Linked DNA regions of Homo sapiens: region 2 is linked to region 1. Evidence: fine-mapped expression QTL. A gene starts in region 1. The other region holds a variant in brackets. All regions are shown on one strand. Distances are from middle to middle. Region 1 holds the start of HS3ST2 (heparan sulfate-glucosamine 3-sulfotransferase 2). Region 2 has its middle 89 kb from the start of HS3ST2.

Region 1 (9,553 bases):
TGTTCAACCCATACAAACCACATGGGAATAAAAGAGGGAAAACTGTTTGTCCAAGGATGGCAAGGATTACTAGTTGTCCTCCATAACCATTCTTTAGTTCTTTCTTGATACCAAAATCTCAAAGTGTTAGCCAGGCATACAGCCATCCAGAATCAAGACTGCATTTTGAAGCATCTCTTGAAGCTAGAAAGTCAAATGATAAAATGCTGTCAAATTGAATACGAGTTGAAATAATACAGGCAACTTCCAAGAAATGTCCTTAAACAGATATGGCATGTCTTTACATATTTACTAATGACCAGAATGTGAACATTCTGGCTGCAGATGAATAAGTCATTGTAGACTATGTGGTGACTTTAGAATGGAGGAAATGCATGGTAGAGTAACAAGATAGAGGGAGCCTGGGTCCCAAACACTTTGGAGCTTCCATACAAGCCCTAAAGTACCTTCATCTGGACTTTCATGTGATTACAAAAATAAACATATACCTTGCTTAAGTGGGTGTTAATTGACAAACTACACAACCCAGCATAATCCTACCTGATACCCCCAAAGCAGAATCACGTTTGCTACTGTAAACAGATAAAGGTTTAGGAGATGGGCAGGTATGTCCAATGTCTCACTTCCTAAAAAATTCTATCCAAGTCAGTCATTACTCTGATTGGAAATTTGAAGAGGAAAATCTTCCTGGTTTTGATATATGTGAGTACCCAGGGATATCACAGTTTATGAATTCAAAGGTTAAAAATTATTTAAAAATTAAGCCAAGCACAGAATTATGAGAAATCATTATATTCATGTTTTATTTTCTAAGGGAAATAGTACTGATCACAGCAGATGACTCCACATTTAACCTTGTAATTTTAACAATGGAATACAAAAATAGCAGGTTCATGATGTGAATAATTGTTCAAAGTATATATAAGAGCTCCTTCCAGGCCAGGCATTGTGGCTCATGTCTGTAATTCTAGCACTTTGGGAAGCTGAGGCAGGAGGATCACTTGAGCTCAGGAGTTCAAGACCAGCTTGGGCAACACAGTAAGACTTCATCTCTACAAAAAATTAAAAAACTAGCTAGGTGTGGTGGCACATGCCTGTAGTCCTAGCTACTCAGGAGGCTGAGGCAGGAGGATCCCTTGAGCCCAGGAAGTGGAGGCTGCAGCATGAGCTATGATTGCACTACTGCATGCCAGCATGGTCAACAGAGTGAGACACTTCCCCTCACCCAAAAGAAGAAGAAGAACTCCTTTAAGTATATTTGTTTTGACATTTTTATTAACAATTAGAATGAGGAATTAATTAAATTGTGATCAACTGTGGAAATTACATGATGCCAAGTGAGTGGTTCATGCTTTGGGTAATGGAATCATAGAATCATGCAACATCTAAACTTTGAGAGACTTTTAAGGTGAATCATAGCGTCCCATTTTACAGCTGAGGAACCTGAGGCTTAAAGGGGGTCCACTTGCCCAAAGTACACCTGGAATAAAGGGTAAAGCTGGGATACAATCTTTCTACTTTTTCTTTTTGAATAAATGAAAGCTACCTCGTGGTTTGACTTCAAATAGACATTTAAAAAAAACTAGGGCAGCGAACTGATGAGACAAGATGAAATGCAATCAAGTCAAATCTATAAGGACCTACACATTGGGTCCAAAAAGGCCCACTGTACAAGCACAGTATGGGGTAGCTGTGCCTTAATCAGCAGCACTTGTAAGAAACATTTAGAGATGTTACTTGGCTGCAAGTTTGAGATGTCAGCAGTGTGATATAGCCACAAGAAAAAGATAATGGAGTCTTAGGTGGCATTACTAGAAATAGAACTTACAAAAGAGAGGTGAGAGTCCTGTTGAACTTTTCAATCCATATCTGAAATTCCTCGCGCAGTCCCAGGTGTGAGATTTTAGAAGAGACATAGACAAATTAGCTTACATCCAGGAGAGGAGCCTAGGATGGAATTATATGAATAATGGTCAAAGGAAGTTAGGAAGCTGCAAAGTGCTGTAACTAAGAGCTTGAATCTTGGAGTCAAGACTGCCCGGGTTTAATCCCAGCTCTGCCAGTTACTGTGTATATGTTTGTTAAATCTTCTTATCACTGCCTGTAGATTAGAAATTACAATAATACCTATCTCCAAAGATAAATGAGGTAGTGCATGTCAAGTGATTAGCGCATAACTCCCATAAAACAAGCACTCAATAAATGCTAGCTACTATTAGAATTAAGACAGCAAAGTGATGCCAGGGTAATGGTAACAACTTCATAGGTTGTGAATATTTAATCAGTTAACCCATGCCAGGTGCTTGATACAAAGTTGGCAGCTATTATTATTATCTGCCGTAGAATTGGTTTAAGGTTTCTAGGGATGGGACTAGTTTGGGGACAAAATATTTTCTGGTTTGGGCTAAGATCCACAGAACCTAATGATCAGTTTACAGCCTGAGGAAGGAAGTCAGTTATACCCTGATCAGGGTGGGGGTCATGGTGGTCATCTAGACATTCTATGGCTGGGTGGTGGTGGAGGGCACTCACCTTGTGAACACTCGGACATGGTGAATTGGCATTGGCATTGCTGTTGAAGGACAACTCAGCCGTGTTCTTAGCCATGGCCATTTAGGCCTGTTCTGATGCAGGGTTCTGATCCAAGGTACCAGTGTGGTCCCTCAGGGAAGTACTGGGGATCGTCACTTATGCCTGTTCTGGACATGGTCACCGAGAACTGTCCTGTAGGCATTCACTTAGGAATCATTCGAAGTGGAATTGCTCCTGGATACGTTCTCCTTGTACTCTGTTTCCTCCTCCTAGTGTCTCTGTGTGAAGAAGCCCTCCTCACTCAGCCCTCGGCGACCCTCTGGTACCCTGGACAGCTCCCCGGGGAGCAGTCTACCGCTAGGCGGCGGCTGCTAAGAGAGGAACCCTCCTGACGCGGAGTCTGCCGCTCCGGGGCTCGCTCTCCGGCAGGCCCGGGGAGAGGTGGGGTGACAATGGGTTGGGGTGCGCGCGTGCCTCATAGGTGCGAGACAGAGCGAGCCGCCGGGGTGTGAGTCAGCGCGCTGGGGGCTAAGAAGCTGGGTGAATAGTCACGGAATCTCACTCACGCTCGGCTCCTCCACCCATCCCGTCTACAGCGCGTGTCCCAGTCCAGGGCGTGCGTGCGCTCGGTGTCCGATTCCGGGCTGTGTGTGTCCATTTGGCGAGATGTCGAGAGCGGGGGGAGTGTCCTTGTCGGTGTATCTGGGCCCAGGTTAGGGGACTTCTCCTCCCCACCCCCGCGTGGGTGTGGGGGTGTGTCCGGGCTAGGGCGCGTGTGCTTCTGTGCCTGTGCGTGCGTGTGCGGGTCAGGGTGGTGGGACCGCGCATCAGGGCAGGGTGCCTGCGTCTGCGTCTGGGTCTGTCTGGTCTGCATGTCGGCGCGATCTCGACCTGGATTCGTGTCCCTGGATGTCGAGAGGCCAGCGTGGTGGGGGTGTCCAGCCTCCCGGAGGAGTACTATGCCTTGACACCTTCGTTTCACCGCCCCAAAGCTGGCCTGGGGCTCCGTAGGGAGTGGCCTGCATGGGGAGGGCCCGCGTGCTGTGTTTCTGGGAGGGGTAAGAGAGTGGGGGCGCAGGGGGCGGGCCAGGTCCCTGGGCGCGGCGCGGGCTCGGGGGACCCGCGCGGCTGACGTCAGGCCACTCCTTAAATAGAGCCGGCAGCGCGCTCCGCTCGGCATTTCCCGAAGAGCCAGATCGCGGCCGGCGCCAGCGCCACCGTCCGGTCCACCCGCCAGCCCGCACAGCCGCGCCGCCGCCGAGCGTTTCGTGAGCGGCGCTCCGAGGATCAGGAATGGGGCTTCGGGCGCTGGGCGCGCTCCGAACCCGGCGCACGTAAGAGCCTGGGAGCGCCCGAGCCGCCCGGCTGCCCGGAGCCCCATCGCCTAGGACCGGGAGATGCTGGAAATGCAACCGCCTGTTCCCCGAGGAGCCGCTGCCCCCGGGACCCCCTGGCACTGTGCGCACCCTGGTCAGCAGCCCCCGGAGAAGACGGCGCCCCCAACGCCCGACCCGCGTGGCCGTGGCAGCGCCACGCGAGCCCTCTAGGCGACCGCAGGGCCACAGCAGCTCAGCCGCCGGTGCCCCCTCGGAAACCATGACCCCCGGCGCGGGCCCATGGAGCCATGGCCTATAGGGTCCTGGGCCGCGCGGGGCCACCTCAGCCGCGGAGGGCGCGCAGGCTGCTCTTCGCCTTCACGCTCTCGCTCTCCTGCACTTACCTGTGTTACAGCTTCCTGTGCTGCTGCGACGACCTGGGTCGGAGCCGCCTCCTCGGCGCGCCTCGCTGCCTCCGCGGCCCCAGCGCGGGCGGCCAGAAACTTCTCCAGAAGTCCCGCCCCTGTGATCCCTCCGGGCCGACGCCCAGCGAGCCCAGCGCTCCCAGCGCGCCCGCCGCCGCCGTGCCCGCCCCTCGCCTCTCCGGTTCCAACCACTCCGGCTCACCCAAGCTGGGTACCAAGCGGTTGCCCCAAGCCCTCATTGTGGGCGTGAAGAAGGGGGGCACCCGGGCCGTGCTGGAGTTTATCCGAGTACACCCGGACGTGCGGGCCTTGGGCACGGAACCCCACTTCTTTGACAGGAACTACGGCCGCGGGCTGGATTGGTACAGGTAAGGACCAGGAGCTCCGCTCCGTGCGCCGGGTCTCTGATCGCTTCCATTGGGAGAGCCATCCGTCTCTTGTGTTTTCTCTTTCTTTTAACCCAACTCATTGTATGGGTTCAGGCTGACACACAGGGCCATGGGGGGCTATAGCAGAATTTACCCAGAACTTCCCAGTGATAATCTAGACGGGCAGTTTCTGGAACTGCAAAGGGCGTTCCCTCGTCACTGGAGTCGTTGGAAAAGGATTATCTCCAGTCAAACCTAAGTGCCAGCTAAAGGGCTAACTCCCTCTGTGACCAGCCCTTAGGGTGCCCAAGGAAGGGACAGGCGAGGACCTGTGCTGCCTGAACACGGCACCATCCTAACCCTCTGTAGGTCTTTGCTGGTACCCAGCCCCTGAAGGACCCTGAGAAAGATAAGGCAGTTCAGAGACCCCTTGCAGCAAGGCTCTGTTTGGGAAAGGTCCCCAGAGTTCAGGCCAAATGACAGTGCATCGCCAGAGGTCTCCAGTAAGAAAGATGCCTTAGGGAGTCTCAATCTCAAACCCAGGTATTTGCTGCTGTACTGGGGCTGAGACCCCCAGTAGCTCTGGCCCTGGTAGGTGGTCTTTGAGTAGTGGAAAGAGCCCTGGATTCGAGTCTTGGGTCTGTCACTTAAGCTTGAGCAAGTTTCTTAAACTCTATCAGCCTCTATTTTCTCATCCATCCCAATGGGCAGGAAAACAGCCCTTGCCCTGTATACCTTCCAAGGCTTTTCTGAAGTGCCTTAAAGGTGTAAAAAAGGCACTTCACTTTAAGTGATGCTTCTAAACCAGCAGCCAAAATGTGGAATTTGAAGGTGGGCCCTGCGGGTGAAGGCTAGCAAGGGTGCTAGGGGCAGCCAGTCATGCATAGACTGTCTATGCTTCCCATGCATGCCAGGGAGGAGAATTATCCCCACTGGGGGAGTCAAGGCACAGACCAAAGCTTCTGTGAGGTGGCAGCGTCCACGCCTCAATGCCTTTCTGCCTCCCTAGCCCTGTATGGTGCTGAAGTGTAGGACTGGCCCACATGTGGGTGGTGTAATGTCCCGGCTCCCTGTTAACACATAGGTCACAGAATTCTCACAATTCACCTGACCCTTTGAAGACTTTCTAGAAACATCTGCATAGTAATGACGTTGGGGAGGGGTAACATGGTAGCTGACAGAGTAGCTGAGGCTAAATCTGCTGTTTTTATCTACAGCTTTAGGCAGTAGAGGTCATATGCATATTGGACAAGGGACAACTTTGTTAGAAAGAGGACCCCACTGGGCTTATAATAGAGGGCCCTGGATTTACCAAAAGTAGGGGGACCGCAGGCCTGATTTAGCACCTTTGCAGGTTACTCCTGGCTCGCAATGGTTGTAGTTGTGGGGACGAGTGGGTCATGCATCATCCTTAGCAGGCAGACACATAGTCTGTCCCCATTGCAGCCAACCAGGGGCTAGCTAGCCTGTGGGTGGCCCCAGCACCATTATGTCTGGTTAATAGGGTAGGGTGGCACAGAGTGGCAGATCTGGCTTCATGCCAATGCCAATAGCCCACTGTGCTTTCCAAGCTGTGACTCATGGGCATCCCGTCTAGGTGCATGTGGACACTGTCTGAGTCAGATCCCGGGATGGAGGAGGCAAACACATTGAACAGCAGAGCCCAGAGTGGGTCAGCCATGACCACATTCGAATGCAGGCCAGCATTTCCTCGATGGAAAATCTGAAGATCATTATGACACCTTTTGCCAATGCGAAGTGCCTTTTAAGTGCAAAACAGCAAAATTCTGAGCATCTGGCTTTCAGATAGTGTGCCCTCCAATAAATACCTATGCCCTGAACCCAGACTCTCCTCCCTCCCCTCTCTTCCTTCCACCACTAAACAGCATACCTCAGGCTTCCATCCTGGAGCCCATGTCATTCAGGGATGGCTGCTTTTTATTTTTAACCTTGGCATGTGTGATTCTAAGCAAGCTTAGCTGTGAACCTTAGAGAGGGAAGCCATGTCTTATTTTTTATTTATTTATTTTTTTTTAGCACATTTGGATTCTGCTAAAATTCTCAGCTGAGTCTTGGTAGGTTTTATTTAACATCAAGCATGCTGACAGCTCTGCTTCTCTCTTCTCTCCCCCTCTACCACCTTTCCCCACTTTATATTTCTAAAAGACTATCCTAGAGGTCTGGTCGTAATTGCCCTCTCCCCATTGCTTGACCAGGAAGGCTGGGAGGCTCCAGTGTCAGGAAAAGGCTGTGTGGTTTGTGCTTCTTTCAGTTACAAATCCACACCCCTAGAGTCAAGTGTTTAGCTTGTGGATTGCCATTTCTGTGCAGGGTAATACTACCCCACTTAGATGCTGTTTCCATAACCTCCAGAACATCTTTCTGTATGTAAAGAACATTTTTGTACATTTCTTTTTATTATGACCAAGTCATACACATTAACTGCAGAAATCATGGGGATTTCTGGAATCTTTTAAAACCCATGTTCTTACTTTCTTCCTGAATCCCATGAGCTAGGTACGGTGGGTGACAGGATGTTCCGCTCTCTGTCCACTGCCTTGTCAGTTCACAGCTTGCCATCATAAAGCCAGGGTCCACTGGGCAGACATAGCCAAAGAACCCTTGCACCCATTGGAGTGGACTGTGCTTTCCAAAGGGGGAGGTGCAGAGTTGCAGGCAGTGTGGATCTTAGTATGATCTGCCCACATCAAAGCCCCTGGTGATAACTTCCTGATCAGGAGGCTGAAATCCAGATAGTGGAAAAATCAAAAGCTTTACCCTTAACCCAAAGGAGGGGCTTCTTTCTGTGGGTAAATGGAGATAAAGCTGAAGGCCGAGTGATATAGCCAGAAAGACACCATCATTTGGAGAGACCAGGAGACAGAGTCTGCACCTTCTTGTCCTTAGCCTGATCCTTCTTGGGAACCACTCCCGTTCAGGCCACTACCAGAGAGCCCAGCCTTCTGCAGTGGGTTCTCTCCAATTTGCTGTCTTTCTGCCATGCCATCTCTGATGCTTACCTCAACTATGTGTCTGGCCTGGGTTCTCCCCCACCCACATTTCCTCCCCGAGGTAAGAGCTGCAGGGTGGTATCTCCTAGCTGCTTGGACAGGTGGGCAAAGCAACACCAGGCTGATGAGGGAACCAGGACAGGGAACCACAGTCAGAAGACCAGAGGTGGTCACCTAGGTGCTGTATGATTTGAAGAAAGGTGATTCTCCCAAGTCTCAGCTTCCTCATCATGGAATGGGACCTGTAGTAACTATCCTAGAAACGTGTTGTGAAGAATAAATGCAAAACTGTACATGAAATTGCCCTGGAAAATTCTATGATATATAAAGACAAGGCAGTAATGTTACTACTGTTATTGCTACTAATTACTACAACACTCCTGTTATCACTATTAGTTCTGTTAGTATTAAAAATATTAGTTTCTGATGCTGCTGCTGTTACTAAATCGGGCTGAGGAATTAATCAATTGCTATAAAGATAGTTCCATACTTTCCTCTTTATTCCTTCCCTTCCCTTCCTCCTTCCCTCTCTCCCCTTTCCCTTCTCCTTTTCCTTCCTTCCTTCCTTCCTCCCTCCCTCCTTGCCTGCCTTCCTTCCTTCCCTCCTTCCTTCCTTCCCTCCCTCCCTCCTTCCCTTCCTTCCTTCCTTCCTTCATTCCTTCCTTCCCTCCTTCCTTCCTTCCCTCCCTCCCTCCCTTCCTTCCTTCCTTCCTTCCTTCCTTCCTTCCCTCCTTCCTTCCTCCCTCCCTCCCTCCCTCCCTTCCTTCCTTCCTTCCTTCATTCCTTCCTTCCTTCCTTCCCTCCTTCCTTCCTTCCCTCCCTCCCTCCCTCCCTTCCTTCCTTCCTTCCTTCCTTCCTTCCTTCCCTCCTTCCTTCCTTCCCTCCTTCCTTCCTCCCTCCCTCCCTCCCTCCCTTCCTTCCTTCCTTCCTTCATTCCTTCCTTCCTTCCTTCCCTCCTTCCTTCCTTCCCTCCCTCCCTCCCTTCCTCCCTCCCTCCCTTCCTTCCTTCCTTCCTTCCTTCCTTCATTCCTTCCTTCCTTCCTTCCTTCCCTCCTTCCTTCCTTCCCTCCTTCCTTCCTCCCTTCCTCCCTTCCTTTTCTCTTTCCTTCCCTCCTTCCATGTTAACAGAAAGTCAGTTCACATATCTGGGTGTCAGTCTGCTCACCTGTGAAATGGCAATGATGCCTGAACTGCTTTGCAACCTTATAAAAATCAAGTAAGACTATCTACATGAAAATGTTTTTCCAAATCTAAGGTTATCTTTAGGATGCTCTCCATTCTAAGGAAGTTTGGATGTGAAATAGACTCTTCAGGGTCATCTTTTATAAACAGATATAAGCTTTGCTGTGTGTAGTAGTTTTTAGAGTCACAGGGAAAGCTGAGATATGTCTGAAGTGTTCTCAATTTTGCTGGTGTTTCGGTATGGCAGGGGAATGTGTGTGTGGAGGAAGTGTATCTTTTCTAAATGCATTGAAATGCCAACAAGAGCAAGTTAATATGTGATAATTGACTCTGTGTTCTGGTGTCCAAATTTTGATAGATGAGCCTGTTCTATAAATTTCAGACTTCACTTCACAACTCTGGTTATTTATTTGTTCAGCATCGATGATGTTCTTGGGATGGTGCAAAGCAAAGAAGACAGAATATTTGCCCCAGAGGCAACAGTCTAAGTACGAAAGAGAATAAAAAGCCCAGAATAAGATCTATCACATTATCCAGTTCATTTTCATCAAGAAATCATATTCTAATTGCAAAGCCCAATTCTGGAAATGCAAACCTTAGAAAAAAATAAAATCAAAGGCAGAAGGTAAGGGGCCTCCTGCCATGACGTAGTTAATGCAGACAGTTTTATCATCTTTCAACAAATTGATCAACACACAAAACAGACTGATCTGTGCTCA
Region 2 (9,553 bases), 90 kb before region 1:
ATATGCCATGAGCTATGTCAAAGAAAACCCAAAACATACAAACAGCTCATTTGATCTGAAACTCTAAGCTCTTTTACTCAAAAAATGTTACAGGAAACAAGCTTATAAACGGTGTTTACAGGCAGTGTCATTTGGGAGCTAAAGCATTTCTGTTTTGCTGAAGCTCTTTAAAAAATTTATGGCAAGATCAACATTATAATGCCAATAAAGGGAATTTTAAAAAGGCTGAATAAATAAAGAAATGTAACCACTGGTTAAACACAGGAGGATATGACGAGACTTGAGCTGAAGAATTGTTAGACTAGAAGAGCTTTTAAAAATTTTTAAACGAAAATAATATATGTTCACTGTAAAAAAAAAAAAAGAGGGTGGAGGGGAAGAAACAAAACAATACAAATAGTTTTTTTTCGTTTTTGTTTCTGAGATGGAGCCTTGCTCTGTCACCCAGGTTGGAGTGCAGAGGCGTGATTTTGGCTCATTGCAACCTCTGCCCCCAGGTTCAAGTGATCCTCCCACCTTAGCCTCCTGAGTAGCCGGCATTACAGGGACATGCCACCATGCCAGGCTGATTTTTGTATTTTTAGTAAAGACAGGATTTTACTGTGTTGAGCAGGCTAGTCTTGAACTCCTGACCTCATGTGCTCTGCCCGCCTTGGCCTCCCAAAGTGCTGGTGTGAGCCACTGCACCCGGTCAAAATATTTCTTCTAGTAGTTACCTCCACATCTCTACATAATATGCAAAAACTGTTGTTTCTTGATTTATCAATTGTGGACATTATGTATTGACTGCCAGCCATGACGGATGAGGATTTAACTAATTTTTCACTACATTCCTTTTTCTTTTTTTTTGAGACAGAGTTTCACTCTTGTTTTCCAGGCTAGAGTGCAATGGCAGGATCTCAGCTCACTGCAACCTCTGCCTCCCGGTTTCAAGTGATTCTCCTGCCTCAGCCTCTGCAGTAGCTGGAATTACAGGCATGTACCACCACGTTCGGCTAATTTTGTATTTTTAGTAGAGACAGGGTTTCGCCATGTTGGCCAGGGTGATTTCAAGCTCCTGACCTCAGGTGATCTACCTGCCTTGGCCTCCCAAAGTGCTGGGATTACAGGCGTGAGTCACAGTGCCCGGCCACATTTTTTTTCTCTTCCCTGTCTTCCTGCTATGATTATCTTATTATATATATTTACCTTTGCAATTTTAGGGACAAATTTAGGCTAGAGTTTTACATTTTAGGCTGTTATAAAAGCAACGCTTATGACAGCCCTGGGGAAGGAGGCCAGGTGGCCGCAGGTGGCAGCAATATGGGTGGGTGGCAGGTGAGGAAGGACAAAGCCTTGGGGGCATCCTTCATGTTTCTCTTTCTCGGACAGTCCATGTCCATAGAACCAGATGATTCTCTTGGCTCTGCCTTCAAAATATATCCAATTAGACTGCATCTCTCGATGCCTGCGATGCTTCCATTCCGATCTAAGCCCTGTCTTCTCTTGCCTGCGTTATTGTAATTGCCTTCTGATGGGTCTCCCTGTTTCTGCTATTGCCTCTCTGCCAAAGGAGACATTTAAAATGTAAGTCAGAGCACACCACTTGTATTCTAACCACACACCTCCCCCCCACCGCCCCCATACCTCTCCACTTCAGAGTCAAAGCCAACTCCCTGCTGCCACATCTGGACCACAGCTGCTGCCTGGGTTTCACTGCCAAGACGCTCTTCCTTTCTCCCTCTGTTCCACACTGGCCTGGATGTTTGTTCCTCAACGAAACCAAGCACACTCCCACCTCCGAACCTGCGCATTTTGATCCCTCTGTCTAGAATATTCCGACCCCAGCAATCTGCATGGCTCATTTCCTTTCACCAGCTGCTCTGGAGGGAGTGGCACTAAAGCCAGGAAATGGCAGGTGCAGATCAGCATTTGAGAGAGCTTGACAAGTGGGGTAGGAGGAGAATCGGGCACCAGGGAGGAGGAGGACCCAGCCATGCCTCTAACATGATGGCCTCAGGCCTGATTTTTGGTTAAAGTAGAAGGAGCAATGGGAAAGGGAGAGGCTAGAACCTGAAAAAGAAGGAAAAGTGGACTGGGCACGGTGGCTGATGCCTGTAATCCCCGTGTGTCCAGACTTAGTGGGTGCTTGGTCTCACTGACTTCAAGAATGAAGCCGCGGACCCTCGTGGTGTTACAGTTCTTAAAGGTGATGTGTCCAGAATTCGTTCCTTCTGATGTTTGGATACGTTCGGAGTGTCTTCCTTCTAGTGGGTTTGTGATCTCGCTGGTTTCAGGAGTGAAGTCGCAGACCTTCACAGTGAGTGTTTACAGCTCTAAAGGCAGCACATCCATAGTTGTTCATTTCTCATGGTGGGTTCATGGTCTCGCTGGCTTCAAGAGTGAAGCTGCAGACCTTGGCAGTGAGTGTTACAGCTCGTAAAGGTAGTGCAGACCCAAAGACTGAGCAGCAGCAAGATTTTTTGCAAAGAGCCAAAGAACAAAGCTTCTACAGCGTGGAATACGACCTGAGCAGGTAGCCACTACTGGCTCGGGCAGCTGCTGCTGGCTGCTTTTATTCCCTTATCTAGCCCCACCCACATCCTGCTGATTGGTCCATTTTACAGAGAACTCATTGGTCTGTTTTACAGAGAGCTGGTTGGTCTGTTTTGACAGGGTGCTGATTGGTGCGTTTACAATCCCTGAGCTAGACACAAAAGTTCTCCAAGTCCCGCTAGATTAGCTAGGCACAGAGCACTGATTGGTGCATTCACAAACCCTGAGCTAGACACAGGGTGCTGATTGGTGCATTTACAATCCTTGAGCTAGACACAGAGTGCTGATTGGTGTATTTACAATCCCTTAGCTAGACATAAAGGTTCTCGAAGTCCCCACTACACTCAGGAGCCCAGCTGGCTTCACCCAGTGGATCCCGCACCAGGGCCACCAGTGGAGCTGCCCACTAGTCCCGCGCCTAGCCTGCGCCCACACTCCTCAGCCCTTGGGCGGTGGATGGGACCGGGTGCCGTGGAGCAGGGAGCGGAGCTTGTCGGGGAGGCTCGGCCACGCAGGAGCCCACGTGGGGAGGCAGCTGAGGCTTGGTGAGAATTTGAGCGCAATGTCGGCCGGCGGGCACTCCTGGGGCACCCGTCGCACCCTCCACAGCTGCTGGCCTGAGTGCTACGCCCCTTACCACCCGGGGCCGGTGGCGCTGGCCAGCAGCTCCGAGTGCCGGCCCGCTGAGCCCACGCCTACCTGGAACTCGCGCTGGCCAGCAAGCGCCGCACGCAGCCTCGGTTCCTGCCCGTGCCTCTCCCTCCACACCTCCCCGCAAGCTCAGGGAGCCGGCTCTGGCCTCGGCCAGCCCAGAGAGGGGCCTCCACAGCGCAGTGGTGGGCTGAAGGGCTCCTCGAGCATGGCCAGAGCGGACACCAAGGCCGAGGAGGCTCTGAGAGCAAACGAGGGATACGAGGGCTGCCAGGGCTGCCAACACGCTGTCACCTCTCACCAGCACTTTGGGAGGCCAAGGCGGGTAGATCACTTGAGGTCAGGAGTTCGAGACCAGCCTGGCCAACATGGTGAAACCCCATCTTTACTAAAAATACAAAAATTAACCGGGTGTAGTGGCACACACCTGTAATCCCAGCTACTCCAGAGGCTGAGGCTGAGGCACGAGAAGAACTTGAACCTGGGAGGAGGAGGTTGCAATGAGTCAAGATTGCACTACACTCCAGCCTGGATGACAGAGCAAGACTCCGTGTCAAAAAGGAAAAAAAAAAAAAAAAAAAAAACCAAAAAGTTAATGGGGGAAGAATGTCCCTAAGGAGGGAGAGGGCGCAAGATGAAAAGGATAAGGGTATGAAACAAAATTAATTAACAAGTTCATGGCTGAGAGCCATACTTTTCTCTACAAAATGGAAGGCAGGGTCCAATCCAAGGGGGCTGGGGCCAACTTAGGGGACAGAGAAGTGATCACGTGGGTTTCAAGCTCATCAGCTGCTGAGGGGTACAGGAGAGGGAGATGACAAGGGGAGTATAAATGGATTTCCCAGGGAGGGATAGCATTAGGAGAAATACCTAATGTAGATGATGGGTTGATGGGTGTGGCAAACCACCATGGCGCATGTATTCGTATGTAACAAACCTGCACATTCCGCACATGTATCCCAGAACTGAAAGTACAGTTAAAAAAAAAAAAAGTGAAAAAAAAAAAGATGATGTTTCCACTGAGGCGCACTAATTGTGAGCGAAGTAGGATCATGGATAAACATCAGCAGGTAGGTTTTGCATTTGCTCAGTGTGAGACAACTATTGTATGCCTACATAGTGCATGGCCTTGTGCTTCCTGATCCATTCTTCGTGATTCCCTTGCTCTATGTGTATGGCAGGTCTTCACCCCTGCAGGTAGTGTTTCCCAGGCTACCTTGTCAGCTAAATCTTGGCAGCATATGGCCCCTATTAAGAACTGGCTGGAGCTTGGAAGGCAGAATAAGGCAAAAAGGCGAGTATTTCTCCCTTTTTTTTCCCTGTGCTTTAAGTGTGGTTTCCATCAGCAGCTACTTCTCTTCCATGACTCCAGGTTCCTCCACGCAGTTCCGGGTTGTCCTCATTTATTCCCGTCCAGTAACTCTGCCTTCTGCTTTTCCCCCTGTAGTGAAAGAATGGCAAAAACATCTCCTCTTACCTGAGGCTTATGAGCTCTTCTAACATCTGCATAAACGACTTCATAAATTAAATTATCTCTATTTCAAATTTTAAAAAAAGGATTTCCCTGAATGCTGAGTGACCCAGCAAAACTGGAGTTGAATTTGAAGTCTCCACATTTGTGCTTGTATGATGTATGCTTTTCCCCTAGCAGTGCTTGGCAGTATGTTGTAATAATAACAACAACAATAATGATAACTAACATTTAATAGAGGATTATTATTTTCCCTATTTAAAAAATGAGGAAACTGAGGCACAGAGAGGTTACATAGTCAGTGAGTAGTCAGTGTTACTCAGGGTTCTCCAGAGAAACAA[C/T]GGAACCAATAGGATATTCATTCATTCATTCACTCATTCAGAATTGGCTCATGTGATTATGGAGGCTGACAAGTCCCAAGATCTGCTATCAGCAAGCTGGAGATCCAGGAGAGCTGATGGTGTAGTTACAGTCTGAACGCTGGTAACCTTTATAGCCAGAAAGAGCACATGCTGCACTTTCAGTCTGAAGATAGGAAAGAACAAATGTCCCAGTTGAAAGAACTGTCAAGCAGAAGGAATTCCCTCTCACTTATGGAAATGCCAGACTTTCTATTCTATTTCTGCCTTTAACTGATTGGACAAGGCCTGCCCACATTAGGGAGGAAAATCTGCTTTACTCAGTTTACCTATTCAAATGTCAGTCTCATCAGAAACACCCTCGTAGACACTTGTAGAATAATGCTTGACAAATGTCTGAGCATCCCATAGACCAGTCAAGTAGATGCATGAAATTAACCATCACGGTGGTGGAGCCTCAATTCAAACCCAGGCAATCTCTACCCATTGGAGTCTGAGGCTGAGCAATTTTTGAGATAGTGGCTGAAATATTGTGGAGTGATTGAAGTAATGCTCTAATGGAAGTGTAAGCTGGGAAATACTAGTACTGATGATATTACTACTAATAATTATTGCTTTTAGAGATCAAGCCAAGATAAAGGTTTGGGAGTGGGAGGTATTGGAAGTCTCCAGGGAGCTTAGGAAACAGTTGAAACAAAAGTGCTGAAAGGTGTATTATGGAAGGTATAGGAGAAGCTGCTGCAACAGAAGGACCAGAAAATACAGAGGTTTAAACAGAATGGAAGTTTATTTCTTCCCACATAACAGTTCAGAGGTGGGTGAGAAGGGTTTGCCAACCCCGATACATAGTTACCATCTCTAGCCCAGCTTCTCCAGTTGTTAGCACCTCCCAGCCAATGGGAAGAAGGATTGCACAGAGCAGTGCATGGCTACCTTTTCTAGGATCTGCACCTGAGCTGTCTGCCATGGCGACCATCTGTGGCTATTGCGCACTTGAAATATGGCAAGTGAGAATGAGGACGTGAATTTTGTATTTAATTTCATTCTAATTAGTTTAAATTTACATTTTGAAAAATCATACTCCATTCACTTATTTTTAAGGATGTTTGAATAACTTTTAAGGATGTTTGAATAACTTGGATATATTGAATGTGCTTTTTCAACTACAAATTGTATAAAACTGAAATACAGATCAACTCTCCCTTCCTTCCTTTCTTCCTCCCCCGCTTCCTTTTTCTTTTTCTTTCTCTTTCTTTCTTTCTTTTTCTTTTCTTTCTTTCTTTCTTTCTTTCTTTCTTTCTTTCTTTCTTTCTTTCTTTCTTTCTTTCTTTTTCTCTTTTTCTTTCTCTTTCTTTTTGAGACAGGGACTTGCACTGTCACCCAGGCTGGAGTGCAGTGACACAATTATAGAGGACTGCAGCTTTGACCTCCTGGGCTCAGGTGATCCTCCCACCTCAGCCTCCCTAGGAGCTGGGACCACAGGTGTGCTCCACCATGCCCAGCTAATTTTTGTATTTTTTATAGAAACGGGGTTTCCTCATGTTGCCCAGGCTGATCTCGAACTCCTGGGTTCAGGTGATCCACCTGCCTTTGCCTCCCAAAGTGCTGAGATTACAGACATGAGCCACTGTGCCCAGCCCAGATCAACTATTTCTAATGAAAATGTAGCATCTTCATTGAAATGTGCTGTGAGTGTAAAATACCCACTGGATTTTGAAGACTGAGCGTGGAAGAAAACAATATAAGGTATCTGATTAATACTTTCTTATATTGCTTACATGTTGAAATGATAATATTTTAGACATTTTGGGTTAAATAAAATATATTATTGAAGTTAATTTCCCTTGTTTCTTTTTACTTTTAAAAAATACAGCTACTAGAAAATTCAGAATTACATATGTGGCTCATGTTATATTTCTGTTGGACAGTGCTGGTCTAGACAACTAAAAAATGTACACGTCACTTGAGCTCACATCCATTGAGCAGGAATTAGTCATGTGTAGGCACCAACCTGCAAGGGATGCTGGGAAGTGTAGATGTCATCTCAGCTAAGCAGCCAAGTATCTGCAGAGAATTAGCAGTGATGGACAGTCAGCAGCCTCTGCTTTGGAAAGACCAGAAGTTATGATCAGAGATGGTACAGGCATGACAAGGTCCAGGATGTAATAGAGTGTAAATAGTTAATCCAGAGGAGGAGGTTAAGCAATTGTGGATAATCATTTTGTCATTAAATGCAAGATACTTATCTTCCTATTTAGTCTACCAAAAAGACACAAATACAATTCTTTTCAACAACTGTCTTGGACACTATTACCAAGTTGCACCTTAAATTTTAAGTGAGCATTACAATTTTATACATATCATCATATAATCCTTATAAGAGCCAGCACTCAGCACAATGCCTGGCTTGTTGTAGGTGCTCAACAAACATTAGTTGAACAAATATATGAATGAATTAGGCCATTTAGATGGAGATAAAAGAAAAGGAAGTAAAAAATACATAATTCATTTATTCAACAAATATTTGAGCATTTACTGTGCTAGGCACTGGGGATATAGCAGTGAACAAAAGAGACAATTCTCTTCTCTGGAGGAACAAGGCTTAAAATAAACAAGCAAGCATACAAATATTGTAATACGATATCAGTTCACAATAAGTACAGTCATGTGCTGCATGACAATGTCTCGGTCAATGACAGACTGCATTTGTATGATGATAGTCCCATAAGATTATAATACCGTATTTTTACCGCACGTTTTCTTTGGTTAGATACACAAATACTTACCATTGTGTTACAGTTGCCTACAGTATTCAGTACCACAACATGCTGTGCAGGTTTTTAGCCTAGGAGCAATCGGCTATATACCATGTAGCCTAGATATGTAGGAGGCTCTACCGTCTAGGTTTGCGTAAGTACACTCGATGATGTTTGCACAATGACAAAATCACCTGACATTGCATTTATCAGAGTGACGTGAGTAAGGTAGAATTGGAGATGTCTGTGGGAAGAGCATGACAGGTAAGAGGAACAGCAAGTTCAAAGACCCTGAGGCCAGAATGTGCTAGTGTTAGTGGAGTAACAGCCAAGAAGCCAATGTGGCTGGCAAGGAGTGGGTTAAGAGTAAGAATAACAGAAGATGAAGTCAGAACTGGTGACAGACTAAGATTGTATTTGATTTTTATCTTCAGTGAGAGGGAGACCCGCAGAAGAGTGTCCTTCTTTGAACCTGTTTAAAATTGTTACTGCACCTTTTTGTAAACAATTCCTGTCACAGAAGGCAAGGAGGTGTGAACAACCTTGTGAATGAGAGCCCAGGTAGGGAGAGAGCCAAGCTTTTTCTGACTTTTGCTAAAGAGCTTTCAGAAATTGGTTTACTTAGCTGTGTTTAGCATTCCCACACTTTCTCTTTGGCAGACTGAAGAGACAGCAAAGTGTTATTTTGGGCTTCCTTCCAGACTTGGAATTAGTTTGTTTTCGTCTTTTATCACAAACATCCTGCTGCCCTTTGACAGTATTCCTGGTAATGGAACCTTTTTGTTTTGTTATATTTTAATCTGCTTAGTGCATGTGGCTTGTCTATCTGGCTTCACAAATCACTGGTTATCATCACAGTCAATGGTCTGTGTCCAGCCAATTTCACAGACAAACACCTCTTTCCTGGTCACAGGCCCTGATGTGGGGAAGTCTGATTTACAAAGTCAATAAAAATGCATTCAGGGAATTACTGGGCCCTGCTGGCTTAATATACGAGATTAAAATCTCCAAGTTTGGGACAACGAGAAGTCATTTAAGACACGTAAGATGGCAAGTGGATTATGGAAATGTCAGCTGGTCAGGGTCAGGCACCACTGGGAGGGGATTTATTGGAAGATGAAGAGACTAATTGATTAATTGCCTTCAGTACTTTTCCCAGGGTGACCTGGGGAAGATATCATACTACATCACTGGTCACTTTGGAGAGTGGACAATTTTTCATAGTGGAAGGTCATCTAGACCCAAACCAGGAGGGTATTTTTAAAGAAAAATAATTTTTTAATTAAAAGTTTTACTCATTGCCAAATTAGTAAGTGTTCCTTTTACATGTTGTAGTTTGGCTAACCTGGAAGGTGGACTCTAAGAGAGGAATTTGCATACAGTTTACTAGGGAGTACCCTTGGAATCACACAACTCAGGGAGGGAGGAAAGCAGGCCTGGCAGAGGAAGAAATTGGGCTGTGATGCAGTTGCAACAGAGGCTTAAGCTGATCGCGGGAAAACTCGGGAACTGGGATTAGGGAAAGGGACCAGTTATTGGATGTAGATATCCCCAAGAAAGGTGTGTGACCCTGAGTGAGGCTGCTCTCAGCTGAGGACAATTCTTGGAAAGTGTTTCGGCTGAGAGTTGTTAGTGGCTAATGTTCCCAGCAGCTGAGGAAGGAGTTCATCAGGCCAGCAGTGGGGATCTGGGTGGCACACCACAGCATCCACCAGAATAAACATCTTAGAAAATAGAAGCAAAAGGAAGGAAATAAAAATGACTCCAGATTGCACCATGTT

The links. PIP is the estimated chance that this variant, and not a neighbour inherited with it, causes the effect. A credible set is the group of variants that fine-mapping cannot tell apart.
Region 2: its variant is the best candidate, but not a certain one, in a credible set for the expression of HS3ST2 in lung (GTEx, PIP 0.51).

The regions. Positions count from the first base shown.
Region 1 is chr16:22,810,455-22,820,007 of GRCh38, forward strand. It overlaps HS3ST2 (heparan sulfate-glucosamine 3-sulfotransferase 2), which reads left to right and starts at 3,708. Exons shown (of 2, transcript NM_006043.2): 1 at 3,708-4,641. The coding sequence starts at 4,157. It overlaps LOC107984851 (collagen alpha-1(XVI) chain), which reads right to left and starts at 4,405. Exons shown (of 4, transcript XR_001752349.2): 1 at 4,253-4,405; 2 at 2,533-2,810; 3 at 1,829-1,947; 4 at 1-183.
Region 2 is chr16:22,720,030-22,729,582 of GRCh38, forward strand. No RefSeq gene overlaps it. Among named protein-coding and RNA genes, the nearest start is that of HS3ST2, 89 kb to the right of the region's middle. The variant C/T (reference allele first, on the strand shown) is at 4,999.